2 separate regions of the Homo sapiens genome follow, and region 2 is linked to region 1. Evidence: fine-mapped expression QTL. Tissue or cell type: whole blood. Region 1 holds a variant in brackets; the other region holds the start of a gene. All regions are shown on one strand. Distances are from middle to middle.

What was found. PIP is the estimated chance that this variant, and not a neighbour inherited with it, causes the effect.
Region 2: RSU1 starts here. The variant in region 1 is fine-mapped to the expression of RSU1 in whole blood (TOPMed, PIP 0.98).

Annotation. Positions count from the first base shown.
Region 1 is chr10:16,750,687-16,759,206 of GRCh38, forward strand. It overlaps RSU1 (Ras suppressor protein 1), which reads right to left. Exons shown (of 9, transcript NM_012425.4): 5 at 4,185-4,303; 6 at 2,232-2,314; 7 at 1,853-1,967. Among named protein-coding and RNA genes, the nearest start is that of RSU1, 62 kb to the right of the region's middle. The variant C/A (reference allele first, on the strand shown) is at 4,234.
Region 2 is chr10:16,814,357-16,822,591 of GRCh38, forward strand. RSU1 (Ras suppressor protein 1) reads right to left here and starts at 3,068. Exons shown (of 9, transcript NM_012425.4): 1 at 2,959-3,068; 2 at 2,617-2,728. The coding sequence starts at 2,725. It overlaps LOC105376435 (a long non-coding RNA gene), which reads left to right and starts at 3,343. Exons shown (of 3, transcript XR_930708.3): 1 at 3,343-3,400; 2 at 4,325-4,386; 3 at 6,472-6,901. RefSeq lists enhancers at 2,547-2,706, 3,377-3,486, 3,517-3,606, 3,637-3,686.

The sequences.
Region 1 (8,520 bases):
CATACATGTCAGAGGCATTAAGTGAGCTTTACACCAAGTTATAGAAGAATTCACCTCACACATGGAGATTCTGATTTAGTAGGTTGGGGAGGGAGCAAGTTTTTGAGTTCTGCAGAAGCTCCCCAGCTATTACTTATGCTAACATCTGTGGTTATTAACCACTGTACAAGATCTCTCTTTTTTTTTTTTTTTTCCTTTCAACAAGGTCTTGTTCTGTCACCCAGCCAGGAGTGCAGTGGCACGATCACTGCTCACTGCAGCTTTGACCTCCCAGGCTCAGGTGATCCTCCCACCTCAGCCTCCCGAGTAGCTGGGACTACAGGCATGCACCACCACGTCCAGCTAATTTTTTGTACTTTTTGTAGAGACGGGGTTTCACCATGTTGCACAGGCTGGTCTCAGACTCCTGGGCTCAAGCTATCCGCCTGCTTCGGCCTCCCAAAGTGCTGGGATTACAACTGGGAGCCACCGTGCCCGGCCCGAGATCTCTCCTTTAACAAGAAGTTTTTTGCCTTGAAAATGTTTGCAAAAAGCGTTTCTTGATTCTGTCACCCTGCTCCCAAAGCAACACGTGACTACTTGCAACTCAGTAAAGAGAAGTGTTGAGTTGCTCCTCAGCCCTTAAAAAATCATTAAATAATCCTCTAGGTGGATTTTTAACACTAGCAAGAGAGCTAAGGGAAATGGCAAGAGAGGAGGCGGGACTTCCCAGCTGGTCCACGAAATCACGTGACTGCCTTCCCTTTAGACTAATATGGCTGCCAACAGAACTCAAGGTGCTGATAGGCGTGCTCTGTGTCTCAGTCTTCCTATGCGTAACCATTAGCCACATGAGCCTGCTCATAACCTTCCTAACGTCCTGTCATCCAAGGTCCTTGCTTCATTAATTCATTCAGTCAGTGTTTTCTGAGCACCTACTGTACCCGAGGGAACAAATACAAAAATGTCCCTGCCCTCCTGGTGATTGCATTCTAATTTCTAACAAATGGCCTCTTCAAACTGCCAAACTTGTTTAAAGAACTGCTTCCTCAATGTGTTTCTTAAAAATGATGGTATTTTGGAGTAGAAAAGCAAATAATCGCAGTTTGAGAAAACAATGTGGTTCAAAGGACTGAAGAAATGAGAGGCTATGGAGGGTCTGCACAAGAAAAGATAAGGGAACTCGTGAACCTTTTGCAGTGGAACGAAGCAGTAACAGAATTACTGGCTTGGAGGTTATTTCTGGCGGGGGACATAAACCCACCCTGGAAATAGGAACGACCTGGCAGAGAAACAGGATTAGGATTCAGCGGCCAGGAGTAGGATCCATTCCCAGCAAGAACATATTTAACAATTCCTACTAGAGATGGGATCAGGAGAGAGGCAAATTCACGACCCGCAGAGGTATCAACATGTTCAAGTAGCCATAACAACTACTTTAACTATTTGGTAAAAGTTTTTCCAGGTCAATAAAAATTTAAGGGGTTAAAAAGTAAGAGTGATACTTAAAGTTATTAATAACCAACCAAGACCCAGAAAGCTTACCCAGCTAGTCAATGAGGAGCCAGGGATAAGGCTCTTACTACTAATCCCATGCTTTTCCCACTACATCACGCAGGGAGCTGAGCGGGGTCATCTTTCATCAGCAGTTTCTAAGACAGGGGACACTACAGCTGCAGAACACAGGATCCGGGAAGGTCAAACCTGTAACAGCTAACTCTGGTCAATGACAAATGGTTCTCAAATGATCAGCATCGTGTGCCTAGGTGGAGAGTAGTTGCCAAGAAGAGGACAGAGGTTGTTCAGAATTGCTACATTAGGATAATTGTTATTCATGAAACCCAGAACTAAGTTCATTCATCAGCAACCTTACCTAGTTCTGGGGGCAGAACGGTGAGGCGGTTCCCCTGAATGTGGAGCTCTTTAAGCTGGGTAAGCTCCCCGATTTCCTTAGGCAGCGAGATCAGGTCGTTATCCCTAAGGCTGAGCTAAACAGAAGAAAACAAGTTGTCAACATATTTACACATTAAAAGGTGCTCCACAGAAACTCTCATCCTCTATGTCCTCTCTTCTACTAAAGCTCAATCCTTTCCATGTATTTACAAGTGCCGGCGGATAATCAAGAAACACTATCAGGAGTAGTGGTTTATTCCCACAAAACAAACCTTACTCCTGCTCAAATTGACTTGATTCTACCCCTACAAGGCTGCAGCAGTGAATTGATTTTCTAAGAATTTAGATAAATTACTTACTATCTGCAACTTTGTGAGCTTCCCAATATCTGGCGGCAGGATTTCAAAATCGTTGTCACTTAGATAGAGTGCACGCAGGGTGGCTGCAAATTAAACAGCAATATATAAACAGGGTGGCATGGAACACAACCATTTGAGGTCTGATCAATACGAGGGAGTCAGCTTTGATTAATAACCCTGGCTTGGTGAAAAGCCTTTGACATACCTAGGGCTCCCAATAATAACAAGCAGGTCAAACTTAGATTTACTGGCTTATTGTGTAGCTGGTGTGTCCAGGAAAACATCTATATCCAAGAGGAATGACGCAATTAACAACTGTGGGCGCCAGCATTTTGGGGCACAGAGTTTCAGCACATTTTCAGAAAAGATTGCTATACTTCTCATAGATTACTTTTGATTCACATTTATTTCTCCATTTGCATCCAAAGTAAAACAAAGAACACTACTGTGCCACTTTTATGGATACCTAGGGCAAAAGGGTTCTTTCAAGAGAATACAGCTCTGTTAAAATAGACCTTTTCCTATGTAAATAGCACTGTGTTACAAATTAATGGAAGGCTTTCTGGTGATGGAGGCTATAACCACAGCTCATCAGTTCCATAATCTGACTAATTATTACTACGTGTTTCTACAGCCTTAAGGACAAAAGTAAATGAAGACAAAGAGGCTAAAATAATGACATGAAGTTAACAGAGTAAATCCTAACTTAAGGAGAATATCAGTAGTCAGAAATTTGTTCATAATTATTACACAATGATAATACGATTCCAACCTACTGAAGGCTAAAATTCTAAAGCATCTGTTTATCTTCAACCAAAAAAGCTGAGTATAATTAGATACATGTTTTGTTTACCCGTATTTATTTTTTAGAGACAGAGTCTCGCTCTGTCACCTAGGCTGGAGTGCAGTGGGTCACTGCAGCCTCAAACTCCTGGCCTCAAGCACTCTTTCTACCTCAGCCTCCCAAGTAGCTAAGATCACAGGCTCATGCTACTATGCCTGGCTACTTTTTAAATTTTTATTTCTAGAGACAGGGTCTCTCTATGTTGCCCAGGCTGGTCTTGAACTCCTAGCCTCAAGTGATCTTTGTAGCTCATACTCCCGAGAACTGCATGTTAATATAACATAATAAAAATAGTTGCTCCACTGCCCAAGAAAATATTTTATAGTTGGTTTCATGTGCTTGAGAAAGTCATAGAAAGGTAATGTACGTAAGGTAAAAAATAAAATTTTAGAGATCAGCTCTGAAAATTCAGATTTTCTGAATGCCACACAAGTTACTATTTGAAGAAATAGAACACTGATTTAAGGGAAGCAAACCTTGTCCAAAATAGTGCATGAGTTCCCAGAAGAAATCATTTTTTAATTTTCAAAAGCATCTCCAGCAAGAAATTTGTTTGCATATGAAAGAATAAAGTGTGTTCACCTGTGGCCAATAATTTCTTAATGCCTGTGTACTGGATAAATAGGTCAATAAGAGTACTTTTTAAAAGGCTCAAAATAGGAATACTGGCTGGAAAATTTTAAAATTGTGTTACTGGTTTATTAATAAATATTTTTAATAAATAATTGGTTGGAATATCCTGGGCAAATATCCTACAAAGAATTAATAGCAACATAGGAAGATACTTTTTTTTTTTTTTTTGGCATGCTATTTAAAAAGAAAGTCAAGTCTCTTAGCTAAATGTGAGGCTTGATCTCATTTAGGTATATAATCTCTCTCAGAATGTTAATATGACATTACTAAGTCCACTTCAGCCCAATGGTGTCACATAACGATCTATCAAATGCACATACTGCTGAGCTACGAAGGAATATTCAAAAGGAGTCTCTAAAGAAAAAATTATCTCTGTCCAATAATTTCTCTTGGAGTTTGGGTCCTGGCAAATAAATTTCCCTCTCAGAACGCAAAGTACAAGGTTGAGGAGATTTATAGAATTGAAAGTTTCTTACTCAGGTAGAAGAAGTTTCCAGGAAGAGAATTTTCGCTCAAGTTGTTGTA[C/A]GTCAAGTCCAGAACCTCAAGAGCTGGCAGGGAGCCGAAGCCTCGTGGCAAAGTGTTCAGCCTGTTCATGCTGTTGCAGGGGGACAAAAATCTATGTCATGACACCAAAGACACATTCATACAGACTATCAAGGGCACCTCTGTTTCAGACGCTGAAAGTGTAAGACAGTGCCATGATCCTAGAGTCACTTTATACTTTATTTTTATTTTTTATTTTTTTGAGACAGGGTCTTACTCTGTTGCCTAGGTTTTAGTGCAGAGGCATGATCTCAGCTCACTGCAGCCTCAACCTCCCCAGGCTCAAGCGATCCTTCCACTTCAGCCTCCCAAGTAACTGGGACCACAGATGCACGCCACCACGCCCTGCTAATGTTTGTATTTTTTGCAGAGATGGGGTTTTGCCATGTTGCTCAGGCTGGTCTCAAACTCCTAAGCTCAAGCAATCCTCTCACCTAGGCCTCCCAGAATGCTGGGATTACAGGCGTGAGCCCCCATGCCCATCCTTTTTTTTTTTTAATTAAAAAAAGCATTTATTTAATATTTACAATGACAAAGATTGTACATACTTATGGTGTACAACATGATACTTCTGATGTATGTATACTACATCATGGAATGGTTTAAATCATACTATTTAACACACGCGCTGCCTCATATGCTTGTCATTTTTTTTGTCTTTTGTGGTGAGACTGCTTAAAATTCACTCTCTTAGCAATTTTCAATTATACCACATATTGTTATTAACTGCAGTCACCATGATGTACAATCCATCTCTTGAACTTATTTCTCCTAACTAAAATTTCATGTCCTTTGGCTAACATCTCTGCAATTCCCCTCTCCCTCCAGCCTGTGGTAACCATTTTATTCCCTGTTTCGATGAGGTTTACTTTTTTACATTCCACATATAAGTGAGAAGGTGTGGTATGTTGTCCTATTTAGGCTAATAATTTCAGTCAGACAGCTTACATGATCTTGAAACACTTGAAAATTTCTTAGCTGTTATTTTCCTCCAACGGTGAAACTTAATCACTGCTTTACACAAAAACTCAAACCATTACAAAATATCTTTCCTTGTAAAGAACAACTTCCCTATGAACGTAGTGATAATATCTCAAAATATACACATGAAGCTTTGTAGTTTTCAGGCTTTTGCTTGATTTCATTCCATTTATTCCTTTTTTGGAGGGAAAATCATGTTTTTGTTCTACAACTGCTAACACTGAAAATTATCTTCAATTAGAATGGTGATGGCCAGGGGCTGGAGGGAGGGGGAATGGAGAGGTGTGGTTTAATGGGCGTAGGATTCAGGTTTGCAAGATGAGAAAATTCTGGGGATTGGCTGAACAACAATGTGAATACGCTTAACACCACTGAACTGTCTACTACAAAGACGGTACATTTTGTGTGCATTTTATCACAACCTAAAAAATTTTTAAATCATACAATTGACCCTTGAGCAACATGGGTTTGAACTTCCTGGGTCCAATGAGACATGGATATTTTTCTTCTACCTCTGCCACCCCTGAGACCGCAAAACCAACCCTCCGCTTCCTCCTCAGCCCACTCAACATGAAGAGGACGAAGACCTTTAAGATGATCCACTTCCACTTAAAGCACAGTAAATGCACTTTCTTTTCCTTACGACTTTCTTAATAACATTTTCTTTTCTCTAGCTTACTTTATTGTAAGAATGCAGAATAGAATACATGTAACATACAAAATATGTGTTCATCAACTATTTCTAGTTTTGGTAAGGCTTCCAGCCAACTGTAGGCTATTAGGAATTAAGATTTTTCGGAGTCAAAAGTAATGTGTGGATTTTTGACTGCATGAGTCATTGTGTTGCTCCCGCAACCCATGTGTTGCTCAAGGGTCAATTGTGTGTGAGTGTGTGTGTGGGGTGTGTGCTGTGTGTGTGTGGTATTGTGTGTGATGTTATGTGTATGTGTATCTGGGTGTTTCGTGTGGTGTGTGAGGGGTGGGGTGTGGTGTGTGAAGGACGTGGGGGGCTGTGTGGGGGCGGGTATGTGTGTGGTGTGGGGTAGGTATGAGTGTGGTGTGGTGTGTGTATAGGGTGTGTTTGGGGGTGTGGTGGTGTGTGTGTACGCAGTGTGTGTGTGGTGTGTGTGTGGGTGTGTTTGTACACGGTATGTGTGTGTGCTGTGGGTGTGGTGCGTGTGGGTATGTGTGGGTGTGCGTGTGTGTGTGTGGGCGTGTCTCCAGTGAAGTCTAAGGGAATTTTTTTCTACACTATCTTTTATCCTTTCTTCAAGCCCCTTATTTTTCTTAACGCAGTTCCCTTTGAGCATACTTAAAAGCCAATTTTTAAAAAAAAAATTTAATAAAAGTTGACAGATACTGAAAGGTGGAAGGGACTGTGACAATAAAAATCATTCTAGCCATCGATCCTTCTCCTAACACATTCAGCTCCATCCAGCCCTACCAAGAGGGCCTCACCAGAAACAGCTGACAGCAGAGGGGGCAACCAAAAGGGAAACGCGGGTTCCCCCTGTCAGGCAGAAAACTTCCCAGACAGACTACACCCAGCAAAACTACCTCCACGACTATCTACTGCCACGACAGCAAGAACAAACATTCTCCATGAAGTCACAATTTGTGAAGCACATTATGGCAAGGACTTCGCTTGTTCACTAAAACTACCTTGCAATACAGGTAAGATGGAGCTTGTCATTAATGCTATGTTGAGATGAAAAAACAGCCTAAGAGAGGGTGAGGAGCCAAGACTTCAGAAGTGACTGATGAAGGCGACATGTGTCTGGAAACACCCCATACCGCACGGAGGCCAAAGCTGCTCCAGACCCTTGGGCTCTGATACAAGGATTCTGAGAAGAATTGCAAGTCAAAGGAAGGACAGCAGAGAAGACCACACTAGGTGCTTCTGTCTTTAAACGCTGCTTTCGGTTATCTCTTTTTGAAAACTGCTGATTCCTTAACATTTTTCTCTGCAAATAAATACACTTTTGCAATATTAGGTAGAGGAAATCCACGGTTAGACAGGCTTAGAGGGAAGAGGCATCTCACCTGAGAGAGAGCTCCCACTCAATCTTCAGCCCAGAGCAAGCCTGGAGCCCCTCCACCTCCTGGTGGCAAGAATCTACTTAATTGCAGATTCCTTTTTCCTTTGAGTGACAAACCAATACCCACAACATTTAAGGAACACAGCAGAGTCCCATGTGCCGCTGACAGCAGTAAGTAACAGTGGTAGGCACACCACCCTGGCGGGCAGAAAGAAGTCCTTAAACAAATGCTAAAACTTCAGAAGAATTGCTAGCAACAGCCCCAGCTACAAAGCGGCCAAGGAACTGCAGAGACTTCTGGCCACCTCTCCGGACACCAGTCCAGGTGGATGGTGACATGGTGGGTTCTCTCTCTGCAGAATGAAGGATGGAACATGCTGGCTGTCCCCCCTCCCTCCAGCAGGTGCTAACATCCATCTCCATCCATCCACATTTTGACACATAGGAATTCCATGCTCAGGGCCCCGCTCTGACACTGCTAGCAATCAAGGTTTCCATGAGAGGCTACAGTGGCGGTAGGAAAAGTATGGAGCTTTAAGGTAGGAGACAGCTAGGTGAGGAGACCGGCTCCAGCACTTGCTAGCTGCGTGACCTTCACCAAGTTACTCAGCTTCTCTGAGACCCAGTTTCCTCAACTATAAAATGAGGCTGACAACACCTTCAGGGCAGGATCACTGAGAGGATAAGAGAGAAAATATCCGAAGCACCCAACACCCAATCCATGGCTCACACGTGGCTTCTCAGGGAATGAGAGCTGTTGCTAGAATTATTTTTCAAAAGATTTGAGAGAAAATTTTGATTTAGCCCTAAGCGAGCAAGCTCACCTCATGACAAGCCACTCTGGATAGTCTCAACTATCAAGTGTGGTTTTCTATTTGTGCCACACTTGGTTAATCTCAGGTGACCTCAGGTGTTGAAACATAAAGCTTCGCAGGGCTCAGCTATGCCAAGTGGTATCAATTCTTTTGTTTGCATGGGAAGATTTTTCAAATGCGTGTTGGAAGTGGGCAAATGCCTGCATATGATGGAGAAGTTGATAAAACCAGGGGGTTTCAGGCTATTTCAGCATCTTTTTTCCTTGTCTTCTAAAGCCCCAGAAAGGTCTGTACTAATGCCTCCTTTTCAGAGCAGTTTCTTCTCCGCAGGTTGTCCTGAGCACCTCCAGCTTCAAAGAAACCTTCTTGTCTAAAGGCACTAATTTTTCTCACCTCCACAGTGACCTACTCACACTTATCAAAAATAAAAATTT
Region 2 (8,235 bases), 64 kb after region 1:
AGGATTGCTTGAGCCTGGGAGGGTGAGGCCCCAGGGAGCTGTGACTGCACCACTGCATTCCAGCCTGGGTGACAGAGCGAGACCCTGTTTTCAGGAAAAAAAAAAAAAAAAAGAAAAAAAAATTCTTACACTTATAATTAATGTAGCCATGTGAAGTATTTTAATACTTGTATATATTAAGCACTGTGTCAGTGTGTGTGCACTGCTGAGAAGTGAGCCCTGGTGGAGGCTTCGAAGAGCATCCTGGAACCCCCTAGGCTCCGAGAAGTCCTGAGGTCAGGGAGTTTGCAGAGAGCAGCCTTGGCTCAATGCTACAGAAGCCAGAGGAGATGGAATCTGCAAATCTCCAAATTCACTTCCACCCAACTTCCCAAAAAGTACTATTATCCGTTGTTAGCTACTTCTTTAGGAAAATTTAAGAATGATCTCGCTTTTCACCACCCAATGTTATACCGGAAATATATTTCAGGAAGCAAGTGGCTTTTCTTCCTTAATAAAAGCCAAGGCTTCAAAGAGATAACGGAGCTGAACCGAAATAGCTAAGCCATTCTCCCCATTTATAAATATTACATAAAGTCTCCTCTTCAAAAGCCGAAGGGTACAAAGCTCCTCTGCTGAAAGCAGCCTCTCTTCTACCTGGTGAGAATGAGTGCTGTAGGGAGGAAGGCCATGGGGCCAAGGTTCCCGCTATGCATCATCTTCCCTATCCCCTTCTCTTTCTCCTCTGTATCAACAGTGCCCCCAATAATGACCATGGTCATGGCAGAGCCGGGCAGGCGCAGCAAGGGGCAAACTCAGATATCCAATTCCAGAGGCATCTGCTCAGTTGCTGACAGCAAGGACCCTTACGGAATGCAAGAGACCAACACACACCAAGCCTGAGAGGCTAACTAGTACACAACCTAAGTTTAATGGCACGTATTTTCATAAAGCCTACGAAACGCAAATCTACGTTTCCTCCCTTTTCCTTCTGCCAAGACATATCAATAGCATCAACTCCAACCTCTGTCCCAGGCAGGTTTTCGAACCGTGAAAACCGTGAATTCACAGTAAACCTGACTCTGCAGTTCTCTCCATGCCTAAATGGCTATCCATCGCCTTTCAGGGTCTCCTGAACATCTCCCTTCTTCTCTCTTGTCACATCCTGGAGTTGATATCCCAAACTCACAGGCCTAATCCATCATTCTTTCATTTTCTTCATTCCTCAACTATTTTTGAGCATCTACTGTGCTCCAGGCACTATTATTAAAAAAATGCAAGCATGAATATTGCACAGCTTTTGTCTTCCCAATGTCCCAGCAGAGAAGAGAGACTTCTAGATTAAAAAAGAAAAAAATCAGTACAATCCTATGTGAGAGGAGTCACAAAGCAATACACACGACCACCTTCACAGAGGAGGGAAGGGATATGTTAGCCTGGTGCAGACGGATAAGGTTTTACACAGGTGGTGATGTCTAAGCTGACTCTTAGAAGTAAAAGGATTTCAGGTGCAAACGACTGAGAAAGAGGGAAAACAGAATTTGTAAAGGCACCAAGATCTGAACGAGTAGGCTCTGGTCCAGGAAGGGCAACAGGTTCAGAATGGCTGGAATGCCAGCTGCATGGAAGGGTAAGGTTGTGTTCAGATTCAGAAAGGCCTTGTACATCACGCCAAGAAACCTGGAGCATTACCGTCGATAATGGACAACCTGGAGAAGTGCGGAGAGGGTTTAAACCAAAGCCACGTCAGCCTGAAGAACTGCTTTAGCTCACTTATCACAGGTTTTTCAAATATTAGAATTAGTAGCCAACATCTAAAAATTAGCAAATTTCACATAAAAATATAGAATCTTGGTTCCTTTAAGAAAATAATCTGGCACATTGGGCCAACATTCCTATGGTGACATGTGTCTGAGTAGCAGGTGCAGCAGCTGGCCCCTTCAAGTGGGACACCTATCACCTAGTTCATAACCGCCCCTGACCGCCCTCACTTGGAGGCATGTGAATCTGCAATCCCTGGTTTTAAGGGAGAGGGTAACACCATAGACAGGGGTTACAGGAAAATGACACTGAAAGTGACCCAGTGATTAAACTGGGCAGTGAAACTGAAGGCAAGAGGGCAAGTTAGGAGGATTTCACCACAGCATGAGGAGGTGACAAAAGCCTGAACCAAGTTCGGAGAATAAATACTCAGAAGAATGTAAAGATTCAAGAAATGCTTAAAACGCTCCAGGCACAAGAATGCTTATTAACCATGGAACTTTTCTGTGTCATTTGTTCATGGACAAAGACTGTATTAGGAGACAGGAAGAAGGACTCAAAATTAATTTTCAATTTATAATTAAAGTGACTATTAAGCAAACTGTGGAAAATCCACCTCAATGCCATACAGCAGAGACAACCGATGAGGCACAGCTGTCTGTGTGATTCTCATCGTGGACTCTCAGGATCGTTTTCCAGGTGGAACAGAACAAATCCTACTGCAAACCCTCTGCGCGAAGCCCCTGACAAGTGAGGTTTACAAGCAGGGGCTGGGGTCTAAACCAGTACAATCGCTCACAGCAGGACCAGCAGTGAATTGGCAAACTTAGAAAGCCTTCCAGCTCATCCACGGGAGAGTCCTGCCCGAGAACTCACAGAGGCCGTTGACATCCAGCATGTTGGAGATGCCCCGGTCACTCATGTCCACCTCGGGCTGGTTCTTCTCCCGGCTCTCCTCCACCAACTTCTTCAGAGACTTGGACATGGTCTGCACCGAACAACAACAAAGCACGTGGGCGATGACAGCAAGCGCAGAGGCGGAAAGGCAAGAGGCCTTCGCTGCCACTCTGAGGCTTCCCCAGGGTTGGAGCGGGTGGGCGTCCGAGGGCGTCCCAGGGGCTGGTCCGGGTGCGGGGAGGGGATGGAGTGGGAAGGGTTCAGCCCCGCTGCGGCCACGCAGCGAGAAGCAACCCCAAGTGCAACACCGCACACACTCACCACGGAAGGTAGCCCCTAAGACGATGGGCGTGCAACCACAAGCTTCGGCAGAACGCACTCCAGCTGCCCTCACTCCCTGCAACACCGGCACTGAACAGCGAACACGCCCTGTCTCGGCGCCCCGCGCAGGCGCACACAGCGCCGCTGCCAGCTCCACGCCCGACCCTACCCATATTAGGAGAACAGCTCTCCAGACGTGTCTCCAGGGCCAGGCTCCGCCCTTAAAAGTCTGTGGAAGAGGCTGGCTAATCACGTTCGTTATTCGGCTTCGAGACCCCGCCCCACGCTGAGGATAGTTTATCCCGGTGGCGTCCACCCCACGGTTTGGGACGCTGATTGGGCCGAAGTTGGCGCGTGCGCAGTAGACTTGGCGCAAGCTCAGTTGATGGGTCGAAGCCCAGAGGGCTGTGGGCGGAAGTGGGGAAGTTTGTGGCGTGACTGTGTAAGGGAGGGTGGTGGCTCAGGGTGGGTGTTGCGAAAGCTGGAAGTAAATTGCTTCCGAATGTTTCGCTTGTGTAATAGCCGCTCCACTCGCCAGAAGTTGCTACCCTGAGCCCGTCTCCACAATGTGCCTCTGAGGGACCTTGTGGGGCACGCAGTTTCCCGCCCTATTAAGAGCTTCTCCAGGCGGGGATTCCGGCGCGGTCTGCGTTTCCCCAGCGCCCTGCTGGAAATCTTTTTTGACAGGTTTCTAAGGCTGGCTTTTAGCCTTTTTACTTGTAGCTAGAACCTACAAGTAAAACCCTACTATTTTAAAAGTCATTTGAAAACACCACTAAAGCGATGTGTCTTTCCCAACTAGGACTTTTACATTTGTGAAACATGACGTTCTGGCTTCCAGGAATCTCTTGCTTTCTCTTCCAAAAGCAACCAAATTTTAAATTCTAGAGAAACTGTTGCCCTCTGCCTCCCTATTTCCTGACCCAGTCTCAGTCACCCAGCAACATCCTGTGCTTCTCTCACCAAAAACCCTGTCCTGAGAGACTATTTTATACTATGGAATAAAAATTGGCACCAGGCACTTTTCTTCTACTGGTCACCTAAATTGATGATAAGACGGATGCCACACATATGCATTTATATATTGTAGATTGTAGCAGGGATCAAAGCCTTAAGGAGATGTGGTAAAATAATGTAATTATATCTCCGAACCAATTGGATAAAAAAAGGATCTGCACTCTTAAATTCGAAAGCAGGTATTTCTTGCTTAAAAAACATTCCAGATGAAAGAGTTATTCCTCCATTAGTCTTCTTTGATCTGGAACCGTCCTTGGCTTTTATGTTTATTGAACTAGACATTATTTAAGAATACAGACCAGGTATTGTGTGGAATATCCTTCAAAGTAAGTTTGATGTTCCCTTTCAGGTTATGAATTTTTGGAGAAACACCACTAAAGCGATGTGTCTTTTCCAGTGCATGATATCAAGGTACAGATGGCATCGGTTTCTCCCAGTATAGGTGATGTTCACTTAAATAAGGTAGTGTCTGCCAGGTTTCTTCACCATAAAGTTACTATTTTTTTCTTTATGATTAAAAATAATGCTGGGGGGAGGTGCTACTTGATTACACCCCATTCCTCATCTAATTTTTACCCACAAGTTTTAGCATCCACTGATGATTTTCTAACTTCATAATTTCATCAATACGTATTAGTAGGTAATCTCCTAATACATTTATTTCTTGAATCATTAACTCTTTTAAAGCAAAAGTCCTGTTTTGAAGCAATCAGAATTTTTCTTATTCTATCAATTTCTAATAGTGAATCTTGCCTAGGTAGGCTGAAGACATACAGTACCTGTGTTAGTCGGCTAGGGCTGTCGTAACAATATACCACAGCCTGGATGGCTTAAACAACAGAAATTTCTCACAATCCTGGAAGTTCTAGATCAAGGTGCCAGCAGATTTGATTTATCCTGTGGCCTCTCCCCTGCCTCGTGGACGACTGTCTTCTCTTGGTGTCCCTCCAGGGCATTTTCTCTATGCAGTCACACCCTTGGTGTCTCTTCTTCTAAGGACACCAGTCCTATTGGACTGCCGGCCTATAATAACACCCTGCATTTGTTTCATGAATGTACTCTCTTCTCAGGTATCACCGAGGATAATAGTTTTTAAACCTCTCTTCTGTTCACTCAATTATGTTTCTTCAAGGGTCCATTCTTACGTGTATTTATCTAGTCTTTTCCCTAGAAAAGAAAGATTCTTCCCCTCTCTGGTGATTGATTCTTGGTTGTTCTTTTGAGTTCAAGTGTGAAGATCTGAACTGGTTTTTCTAGATAGCTGGAGTGGTCTCTTGTTTGTTTGTATTGTTTTCCTCCTAGATCCCTAGACTGATAGTCGAATTTCTTCAGAGGCAAGAACCCAGTATTATGCCTGCAGGTCATCACCCGGCTACCTTTGCAGGTGGAGGGAAATGGTGGATTGTGAGTGCCAGTTAGGGCAACTCCCTGACTTTGGTTTTAGCCCCTCACACTGCACCAGCCAGCCCCACATCCAGGTTACACCTGGAACAGAGAGTCCCAGCCCTCCTGCATGTCTCTCTTGAAGTTATTTTGAGCTGCATGCCTCCATTCACTTCTGTTTCATAGGAATTTGTTTTCACTCCTGTTTGAGATAGGAAAAACCAAACTGTTTTTGCTACTCTCCACTGGCTCAACACTTCTGACACCAGAGAATCCCCCACACATGAAACAGTTCTCCAGCAGACACCAGCTCGGTGTCTTACAGTTTAACTTAATTCTGACACTGTCTACCTCAACTTATAGTCAAATCCCACAAGTTAAGGGTTCATTTCCACAAGACTTTAGGTTGACTGTCACCTACACTTCTGACTGACCAGCTATAAATCAGGGTTCCCACACCCCCTTCTCAGGTTTGATTAATTTGCTAGGATGATGGTTAGCCTGTCCAGGGTCCTGATTGCTAGCAGTGAAACTTCATGGTGACACAATTTGGAATCAGGAAACTTATCCCTTGGCCACTAGATCTGGGAAGTTGGCTCAATGTATGTTTCACCAGATAAGAATATTAAGGTTTTTGCCTCAGGACTGGCTCAGGAAATCAAGCAAGATGGAGCTGGGAAGTGTGCTTTGTGAAGCTGGGAGACATCAGCTGATAGTCTTGTATGGCTGTCTTGTTCTCTGCTTTATCCTCAGTGCGCTGAGTACGTATCACATAGCTGATGCTCAATAAACATTTGGAAACAAGTGAATTAAATGTAAAGCAGAACCAGAGGATATACGGTGGGTCTTACGAATGAGAGTACAGTTGACTCTTTTCTCCTTCTTCCAGCTGAATTACTCAAAAACTGAATTACTCAATAACTACTTCCCTTGGCTATACACGAAAATGTCATGCTCCCAAGCCTGACCATCCCTAACCCACTAAAAAATCACTGCTTATTTCCTAGATGCCCAGCCTGGAAGATTTTGTAAAGCTTCATTTTGTCTCTTTTTTTCTGTATTTTTAATTTTAAAATTACATAATAATATTGACTATGCTTTCCTCAATTTCAGGTACACACTTCCCAGATATTCCAATATGCCTCCTAGAAAAGCATGCCCTTCTGAGTGGAAATGATACCGTTACTCTAATGATGCAGTCCATGCTCTAAGCATCATTTTTTTGACAGTGACATCATGTTAATCTTTCTTTCAGAAAAGTACTATGTCATTTCATGTTATTGTTAAACTTTCCCTGTATTCTGTACTTTTGCAATTCATTTTTTGATAAAAGAGGAAGATCTTATATCTGTCACATTTCGTCTGTTACAATTGGCCCATTGTTGTAGCTTATCAAGACCTTTTGGATTTGATGGTGTTACTTATCGCATTCACTGTCCTTTCCAATGTAATTGTCACCCATAAAGTTGATATGTCTATCCATAATACAAAAAGGGAGCAGGAATTGTTGTTGTTGTTGTTTGTTTTTTTGAGATGGAGTCTCATTCTGTAACCCACACTGGAGTGAAGTGGCGCGATGTTGGCTCACTGAAACCTCCGCCTCCTAGGTTCAAGTGATTGTCCAGCCTCAGCCTCCTGAGTAGCTGAATTTTCAAGGTTAGAGTATTTTATTTCTGTGGCTCCATACTCTGTCCAGAAATAATTATCTGCCATTTGAGTATTAGAGTAAGATGAAGTTACATTCCTCAGCTTCTCTCATTCACATGGTCTTTTGTTAATAACCCTTGATTTTGCATAATTAACATAAAGCAAATCTCCTTTGTAAAGGCTTCCGCTTTTCTAGAGGCACTGAAAAACTTTATAAAAGCATTGAATTTTCTTATGAAAAGGAAGCTAATAACTACCTCACTTAGTTACATGTCTGGCAGCATTGGAGATAAGGATGTGCTACTGAACTTTCTACTTCTTGTTAAGTGGCAAACCATATTGTTTATTTATAACTTAACATATTGTGTTAAGGAATAGGCAATGGTGGTGCTTATGGAAACTTTGTACTCCTGAGCGTAAATACATAATAGAGTTTGGATATTTGTCCCTGCTCAAATCTCATGTTGAGTTATAAAAGCCAGTGTTGGAGATCGGCCTGGTGGGAGGTGTTTAGATCGTGGGGGTAGATCCCTCATGAATGGCTTGGGCCATACCCTTGGTGATAAGTGAGCTCTTGCTCTGAGTTCACATGAGAGCTGGCCACTTAAAAGTGTGTGGCACCTGTCCCATACTCTCGCTGTCTTGCTCCTGCTTTCACCGTGTGACATGCCTGTTTCCCCTTCGCCTTCCTCCATGATTATAAGCTTCCTGAGGCTGCCCCAGAAGCCAAGCAGATGTCAGCACCATGTTTCCTATAAAGCCTGCAGAGCTGTGAGCAGATTAAACCTCTTTTCTTTATAAGTTACCCAGTCTCGGGTATTTCTTTATAGCAATGCAAGAATGATCTATTACAGAAAATTGGTACCAGGAGTGGGGTTTTGTTATAAAGATACCTGAAAATGTGGAACTGACTTTGGAACAAGATAATGGGTAGAGGTTGGAAGAGTTTGGAAGGCTCAGAAGACATAAAGATGAGGGAAAATTTGGAACTTCTTAGAGACTGTTTAAAAGTTGCAACTAAAATTCTGATAGTGATATGGATAATGAAGTCCAGGCTGCCAAGGTCTTCGATGGTAATGAGGAACTTAGTGGGAACTGGAGCAAAGGTGACACATATTATGCCTTAGCAAAGAACTTGGCTGCATTCTGTCCATGCCCTAGGGATCTGTGGAAGTTTGAACTAAAGAGTGGCAACCTGGGGTATCTGGTGGAAAAAATTTCTAAGCAGCA